Linked DNA regions of Homo sapiens: region 2 is linked to region 1. Evidence: fine-mapped expression QTL. A gene starts in region 1. The other region holds a variant in brackets. All regions are shown on one strand. Distances are between the middles of the regions. Region 1 holds the start of CUX1 (cut like homeobox 1). Region 2 has its middle 21 kb from the start of CUX1.

Region 1 (4,380 bases):
TTGGGACCACGCTTTCCGTTTTCAGTGAGTGCACCCACACTTTCCAACTTTCTGCGCCCAAAGTTGCAACAAACCAAGGTGTCTGAACCACAGGAAGTTTCTTGGGCTGTTCCGCTGAAGCGGCGCGGGGGGACACAGAACTGGGCTCCCAGACTTTTCCTGTCGTGGCCTAAACTGGAACGGCTTGGGCGAATGGGGGCTGCCGGGACCCCCAGCGCTACCGCCGTTGGGGTGCGTTCGGGTGCGACGCTGGCACCGCCGCTGTCCGGGTGTGGGGCATCCACGCGCGCGGCCCCCTGAGAGGGTCAGGGCTGTTTCCCCCTCAACTCCACTCCTCCAAACATGCCACGCTGTTCCTGGTCGTGTCGGTGTCCCGGTCCTCGCTGGGCGCAGAGGGATCAGAGTGTTGCCGTCCACCGTCGGGGCGCCTCCCACGCACGCTGCTGCGGGGGGCCTGGGCCACGCAGGGGTCGGGTGTGGGGGGTCCCGGGCAGGTGGTAGCGGCGTCTCCGCGCTCTGTACACTAACCACTACAGGGGCGCTCCGACGTTCCCCCCAACCGGAGTCTTGAAGGCGCTGCGCTCGGCCACCGCGGGCGATCGCGATCCCAGCGGGAGACCCCCCCCACCCCCGCAGCCCTCCCCAGGTGCGCGGTGCCGGGGGACCCCGGGCGCTGCCCTCCAGCGCCCCCTCGGGGCCGGGTCTGTGGCCGGCGCGACCGCGGACTTTGGGGGGGGTTGTCCCGAGGGGCGGGGGTCGCCGGTCGGCCCGCGGAGGGGAGGGGGAGGGCGGCGGTGGGGGGGTTGGGGGAGCAGGGGCCGGGGCCGCGCGCGCGAGGCCGGGCCGCGGCCGCCGCGCCCTGGGGCTGCGACTCCGGCTCCGGCTCGGGCTCGCCATGGCTGCGGCGGTGCCGTGAGGAGGAGTCCGCGTCCTCGGTGGCGGCGGCGGCGGCCGGCTCCAGGCCGGGTTTTGGCGCCGCCCGCCTGCTGCCTCCTGGCGGCTCCTGAACTCCAGCCCCCTCTCTATCAGCCGCTCACTCCGTCTCAATATGTCTCAAGATGGCGGCCAATGTGGGATCGATGTTTCAATATTGGAAGCGCTTTGATTTACAGCAGCTGCAGGTCAGGCTCCTCCGCGCTCGGCCTCGCGCCCGGGGGTGGGGGCTGCGGGCGGTCGCGGCCTCCGCCGGGGGCCCCGGGCTGGCCCAGCCGCCGGGGGGCCCGCGGCGGCGGGGAGGAGGGGGGTGCCGGGCACCGCGGGGCCGAGTCGGGGCCGAGTCCCTCCCGCTCCCCGGCCCCCATTGATCACTCGCTTGATCGGAAATTGATCCTCTTTGTTCAATTCATCGATCAGCCCAAGATGGCGCCGGGAGCCGCCGCCGCCACCACTGCCCCCGGTGTCTGCCCCCACCCCGGGCGCCCCCCCGGGCCCCGCGCCGCCGCCGCCGCCAGCGCCGCCGCCGCCGTTGCCGCCGCGGGACCGGGGAGGGGGCGGCCCCGGCGGCCCGCGGGGTGCGCGCGCGAGCGGGGAGCGGGGAGCGGGCGGCGGGGGGCGGGCGGCGGCGGGCGCCGGGAGGGGGCCGCGGCCCGGCGGTGGCGCCCGCCCGCCCGCTCGCCCCGCGCCCCCGGCCCGCCGTATTCCCGGGGAAAGTTTGTGGGGAGTTGCTGCGGGGGGTGAAGCGCCTGCCTCTCCAGGAGGAGCCGCCGCCACTGCCGCCGGCGCGGCGGAGCTGGGGCTGGTGGCGCTGTGGTGCCGCCGGCTCGGGGGAGGGTCAGAGCGGCCACCGGCGGCGGCGGCGGCGGCGCGGCCCGGCTCCGGCCAGGCGGGCGGGTGGCCGGGCAGGCGCCCGCGCTCGCTACCCCCGGCCGGCCCCGGCCGCCGCCCCCGGCTGTCACCGGCCCGGGCCGCGCCGCCGCTCCGGCACCCCGCGTGTGGCTCCCGGCGCGGACCCCCGGGTTTGTTTACGTCCCGGGGAGCGCCCCGGGGCCACCCGCGCACCTCGCGGCCGCCGCGCTCTTTTGTGTGCCTGTGTCGGTGACGCGGACCTGTTCCTCCGTGGCGGACCCCCGCGGGGGCTCTTTGGGGAAACTTGGCGAGGGGCGGCGGGGGTGCCCCGCGCGCAGTGTCGCTGGGTCCCGGTGTCCCGGACCGCCGGGTGCGGGCGCGGGAGGAGGAGGCTGCAACTTTCCCCTAGGCAGGCCCCAAGCTGTTCCCCCGGGTGCCCGGGCAGTGTACGCTGCCTCCCCGCCGCCGGTCCGAGCCGCGATCGCCGCGCGCCTGGGGGCTCCGGCGGCCCCCGGTGACCTGCGGCGCCGGGTCCCTTCCTTGCGTCCCCTCGGGGCTTCTGCCCTCTCTGCAGGGCCCGCCATGGAGCGCGCGGCGGGTGCGCTCGGAGATGCCTTCTCGGGCCGGGTTCTCGAAAGCAGAGCCCCGGGGGCCCGTTGGGACCGTGGCATGCCGGGCGGTGGTCCGCGCGCGGAGTCCCCGGCGCCGCGGGGGGACCGTGCCGGGGCTCCCCGGCCCGCGCCCGAGTCGCCGCCGTGCCCAAGGGGCGAGTGCCTGCCTGCCACCCCCCGCCCGGAGGAGCGGCGCACCCTTAGGGTCCGCCCCGCACGTGCCAGCTCGGCGCCCGCGGCGCCGGGACAGCCCCGGGACTCTGCCAGGTGGATGTTGTGCGTAGCCGGAGCCAGGTTGAAGGTGAGCGGCGTGTGGGCCAGAAGTCCCGAGGTTGCAGGCGCGGAGGGAACCGGGGATGTCGGGGGGTGCCCGGGTCCCGCGGCTTAGAATGCTCTAGGGCGGCCTGGTGCTCTGGGAGGGGATAGGAGGGTTCCTCAGGGCCCCTGGGGAACTGCAGCTACTCCCAACTGCTAAGGTGTGCGTGAAGATAAACTTGGCTGAACTTTCCTAACCTGGAGGACTGGTGACAGTGACCTACCGCAATACCTTTGGGAGCAAAGCTCGAGATGCAGGCTTGTATCAAACGAAGCGGGTTGGATTAAAACATATTTAAATGGAATCTGACAACTTTAATTGTATATGCTTGTTTTCTGCTCTTGCCTACTAAGAACGATAAAGCCGAGTCATAGTCGTTATGAAATTTCCTGAAATTTCTCGCTTAACTAGGAAGAAGACTATGCGAAATATGTATTTCCGATAAGATTAAAACTTAAAGGAGTTTAAGTATTTATTGACTAAAATAGATTACTCCAAAGTGTCTATTGTGTAAATTAGATTCCTGGATGTAATGAACACAGCCGAATGGCATTTTTGATAAATTGGTCTACCCTGTTTTAGTAAAAATAGCTCCCTTTTACCATAATTTAATTCCTGTGCTTACTGTAAAACCCGTTGTGGAGTTTTAAGGACAAACATTATTATTATTTTTCTCTCTTGTCTTCCTAAATGTGACATCCTAGCTTAATATCAATGAAGTGTCTTTTTTAAAGCATCCTGGCAAAATTGCCTGGAAAATGGATTTGGTTTCTAGAGTTACTAGATTTTAAGAACTCTAAACCTTCCTGTCCCCCATATTAGCTACTTCTTCAGGGGATCAGGGCTCCAGGGTTCCATCGAAAGTTTCCATGTCAGTTTACTTGCACTTTATGTGGATATTAAGAAGAAATCAAAACCAAACCCCAAAACAAAGTCCCTTATTTGAACTTCATTCCTCTTTACTCCTTTGCTTTTGGTGGTTGCTAACGATTTGGCCTTAGATGATTTCCTATGGGTTTGCAAACTTTAGTCGAATACGGAATGTCAAAGTTCAAGTCTCAGGCCAATCTGGTTCTTTCTCTGGGCGGTGAGGAGGCCTTTGGAGTTGGTGTCTGGTTAATTCCCACCGATAGTCAGTGAGTCAATAGAACGAGTTTGGGAGAGAATTCATTAGTTCCAGATTTTTCTCATTTTTCCAGACCTCTTTATACTGAGATTGGGTTGCCACCTGGGGGTAAAGAGGCTGATCGGTCTTTGCAGAGAGAAATCCAGGTTGGAGACGTCAGCGGGTCCAGGTGAGGTTGGGCCGTTCCGCAGTTCTGCAACCCTGGCTCACTGGGTTCTTGTCCCTCGGCTTCCTGGGTCTTGAAGCTGCTGCCTTGGCACAGGAGTGTGTGCTCAGGAAGAGAATTTCTGAAGATTGTGTTTTATTCCGTTTCCTTTTTAGTCCCAAAGGCTTGTGGTATGGAAGTTTCAGTGCTTTGGTATTGCTAAGACTAGTTGGACAAGTTTTTTATCCTATCTCAGACTTGTAAAAACCAGGTTTTCTTTTCTTTTTAAATAAGAAAAGCACTGTTGTATAAATTTGTCTTTTAAATACATATTTGAAAGGAGGACACTTTCTAAGACAAAGCTCATGGCACTCTGTATGTTAGTGGAGCTTTGAAC
Region 2 (4,380 bases), 20 kb before region 1:
CTTTTTCTCTAAAAAAGAAAAAGAAGGCCAGGTGCAGTGGCTCACGCCTGTAATCCCAGCACTTTGGGAGGCTGAGGTGGGCGGATCATGAGGTCAGGAGATTGAGACCATCCTGGCTAACACAGCGAAACCCCGTCTCTACTAAAAATACAAAAAATTAGCCGGGCGTGGTGGCGGGTGCCTGTAGTCCCAGCTACTCAGGAGACTGAGGCAGGAGAATGGTGTGAACCCGGGAGGTGGAGCTTGCAGTGAGCCGAGATTGCGCCACTGCACTCCAGCCTGGGCGACAGAGCAAGACTCCATCTAAAAAAAGAAAAAAAGAAAAGCAGAAGGGTCTGGGCTGTCGTTCCCAATCTTTCCCTCTTTCTGATGCACAGTGAGGGTCCAGTCACGTGGTGTCCACTTCTATCATCTCTCCACCATCCATGACCTAGAAGCTGCCCAAGGCAGAAACTGGGCTTTACGGACCTGATTTCTGTATCATCATTTTTTGTTTTTTTTTGAGACGGAGTCTCACTCTGTCACCCAGGCTGGAATGCAATGGCGTGATCTCAGCTCACTGCAACCTCCACCTCCCAAGTTCAAGCAATTCTCCTGCCTCAGCCTCCCGAGTAGCTGGGACTACAGGCACATGCCACCACACCCAGCTAATTTTTGTATTTTTAGTAGACATGGGGTTTCACCATGTTGGCCAGGATGGTCTCGATCTCTTGACCCTGTGATCCTTCTGCCTCGGCCTCCCAAAGTGCTGGGATTACATTGCACCCAGCCCTGCATCACCTTCTTAAGCCCCTTTTTTCCGGCCCCACCTAATACCACGCATGTCAGGGTTGCCTGGCCTAGCACAGCACAGCCTAGCCTGGAGGAGAAGTCCATACTTACCTATGCCTGGTGGGGGATGCCGCCTTCACCAAGGTGTGAGCCCATGGAGGCTGGCCTCCTTTAAGAGTCTGGCCAGAGGACTTGAGGTGGCCTAAACACACCATGAGCAGACTAATGATACCAAAGTGGAACCAGAATGATAAGTCCTAGCTCCCCAAAATTTGAGCATCTATTCTGTGCCAAACACTATAGCAGACATTTTATTATTTATATGTTTATTTATTTTGAGACAGAGTTTTGCTCTTGTCACCCAGGTTGGAGTGCAATGGCGTGATCTCGGCTCACTGCAACCTCTACCTCCCAGTTCAAGCAATACCTCAACCTCCTACGTAGCTGGGATTACGGGTGCCCGCCACCATGCCCAGCTAATTTTTGTATTTTTAGTAGAGATGGGGTTTCATCATGTTGCCCAGGTTGCTCTTGAACTCCTGACCTCAGGTGATCCACCAGCCTTGGCCTCCCAAAGTGCTGGGATTACAGGCATTAGTCACCCCATCTGGCCTATGCTACTTACTTCCAATACCCTACCATTGTCCTTTTAGTGATGACCATACCCAGGCGATCTCGATGCCCAAGATTTAAGGTGCAGGAAATCCCACTGGAGTTCAGAGCTGCTGCTTTTTTTTTTTCCTCCAAGAGAAATTGTTGAAGTCAAACTTGACCAAGTTCTTTCTGCAAACTGGATGCCTTCACATGCCTGTCTCCAGATCCATGCTTCAAGGCTAAGTGTTATTAATAAAAGTAATGCAGATTGGGAGGCCGAGGCAGGCGGATTATGAGATCAGGAGTTCGAGACCACCCTGGCCAACATGGTGAAACCCCTCTCTACTAAAAATAGAAAAATTGGCCGGGCGTGGTGGCGGGCATCTGTAATCCCAGCTACTTGGGAGGCTGAGGCAGGAGAATCTCTTGAACCCAGGAGGCGGAGGTTGCAGTGAGCTGAGATTGTGCCACTGCACTCCAGCCTGGTGACAGAGCGAGACTCCATCTCAAAAAAAAAAAAAAAAAAAAAAGCCATCCTGGCTAACACGGTGAAACCCCGTCTCTACCAAAAATACACAAAAATTAGCCAGGTGTGTGGCAGACACTTGTAGTCCCAGCTGCTCAGGAGGCCGAGGCAGGAGAATGGCGTGAACCCGAGAGGTGGAGCTCGCAGTGAGCCGAGAT[C/T]GCGCCACTGCACTCCAGCCTGGGTGACAGAGCGAGACTCTGTCTCAAAGAAAAAAAAAAAAAGTAATGGAGAAGCTGAAGGTTACCCAACTCGTTTCCTGGGCTTGCTTCTCTCTGTCACAGTTCCCTGACAATGATGAAAGCCTGTTCTTTCCAGCCCTCGGCCTCTGTTGGTCCTCACTTTGCAAATGTCTTTCCCAATCTTCACCCACACCAGAAACTCCACGTCTCCCCATGAGAGTTCCCAGGACACCCCGTGAGCCGTTTGCAAGAGAGTGTATCACCTTTAACTCGCCCCTGTCTGTTGCAGGAAACAGGGGTCAGACTGTTCTACGCTTTGAGCACATGGCCTTTGAGGCTTCTCACTTGATCCTCAGAGCTAAATGCTCTCAGATCAGAACAGCAAAGGACTTCGGCCTCAGACCCAGCAAGAGATGTTGTCATTGCATACAATCAGCCAGGAATGCCTTCATTCATTCTACACATCTTTATTGACACAGCCTGGCCCTGAAGTCAAAAGAATGAGAAAGGAGGAAGACAGGCTTGGTGCCTGCCTCCCTGTGTTTAGAGGTTAGCAGAAAAAGAACTAAATCAGGGATGCATTAGAATTATGGTATTACGCCACCATGGAATACTATGCAGCCATAAAAAAGAATGAGTTTGGCCGGGCACAGTGGCTCACCCCTGTAATCCCAGCACTCTGGGAGGCTGAGGCAGGTGGATCACCTGAGGTCAGGAGTTTGACACCAGCCTGACCAACATGCTAAAACCTCGCCTCCACTAAAAATACAAAATTAGCCAGGCATAGTGGTGCATGCATGTAATTAATCCCAGCTACTTGGGAGGCTGAGGCAGGAGAATCACTTGAACCTCGGAGGCAGAGGTTGCAGTGAGCCGAGATGGCACCACTGCACTCCAGCCTGGGCAACAAGAGAGAAACTCCATCTCAAAAAAAAAATAAAGAAAGAAAGAATGAGTTAATGTCCTTTGCAGGGACATGGATGAAGCTGGAAGCCGTCATTCTCAGCAAACTAACACGGGAACAGAAAACCAAACACCGCATGTTCTCCCTCATAAGTGGGAGTTGAACAATGAGAACACATGGACACAGGGAGGGGAACATCACACACCGGGGCCTGTTGGGGGGTGGGGGGGCAAGGAGAGAGAGAACATTAGGACAGATGTCTAATGCATGCGGGGCTTAAAACCTAGATGACAGGTCGATAGGTGCAGCAAACCACCATGGCACATGTATACCTATATAGCAAACCTGCACTTTCTGCACATGTATCCCAGAACTTAAAATTTTTTAAAAAAATTATGGTATTATGCATACTAGGCTGGGTGTGGTGGTTCATGCCTGTAATCCTAGCACTTTGAGAGGCCGAGGGGGGTGGATCGCCTGAGCTCAGGAGTTCAAGACCACCCTGGGCAACATGATGAAATCACGTCTCAACTAAAATGCAAAAAATCAGCCAGGCGTGGTGGCGCACCTGTAGTCCAGCTACTCAGGAGGCTGAGGCAAGAGAATTGCTTGAGCCCGGGAGGTGGAGGTAGCAGTGAGCTGAGATCACGCCACTGCACTGCACTCCAGCCTGGGCGATGAAGCGAGACGCTGTCTCAAAAAAAAAAAAAAAAAAGAAAGAAAGAAAAGTGTGGTATTATGCATACTAACAACAGGGAAAAGTGAACCAGCTCCCAACTGAATCCTACTTTGCTAAGTTGTGTACATGTTTTCTTTATTCATTTCCATTCACTTATGTACAAGTTAAATATATATTTTTTAATTCCTGCTGTATCCGTCAGGGGACTAGCAGGAAACAGAATCAAACAGGGACGATTTAAGAGAAGTTAAGAAGGGACTAGGAGGCTGGCTGTGGTGGCTTACGCCTGTAATCCCAACACTTTGGGAGGATTGCTTGAGTCCAGGAGTTTGAGGCCAGCTTGGGCAATATAGCAAGACCCCATCACTATAAAGATTGTTTTTGGTTGGCCACGGTGGCTCACGCCTGTAATCCCAGCACTTTGGGAGGCCGAGGCAGGCAGATCACTTGAGGTCAGGAGTTCGAGACCAGCCTGGCCAGCATGGTGAAACCCCATCTGTACTAAAAATATAAAAAACTAGATTGGCATGGTGGTGCTTGCCTGTAGTCCCAGCTACTCGGGAGGCTGAGGCAGAAGGATTGCTTGAACCCGGCAGACAGAGGTTGCAGTGAGCCAAGATCGAGCCATTGCACTCCAGGCTGGACAACAGAGCAAGACTCTGTCTCAAAAAAAAAAAAAAAGGTTTTTTTTTTTGTTTTTTTTTTAATAGCTGGGCATGCACCTGTA

What was found.
Region 2: its variant is fine-mapped to the expression of CUX1 in whole blood (TOPMed, PIP above 0.99).

The regions. Positions count from the first base shown.
Region 1 is chr7:101,814,973-101,819,352 of GRCh38, forward strand. It overlaps CUX1 (cut like homeobox 1), which reads left to right and starts at 2,654. Exons shown (of 24, transcript NM_181552.4): 1 at 2,654-2,697. The coding sequence starts at 2,668. RefSeq lists silencers at 419-808, 849-1,078, 1,664-1,823, 1,934-2,253, 2,324-2,403 and 2 more and an enhancer at 910-1,838.
Region 2 is chr7:101,794,795-101,799,174 of GRCh38, forward strand. No RefSeq gene overlaps it. Among named protein-coding and RNA genes, the nearest start is that of CUX1, 21 kb to the right of the region's middle. The variant C/T (reference allele first, on the strand shown) is at 2,050.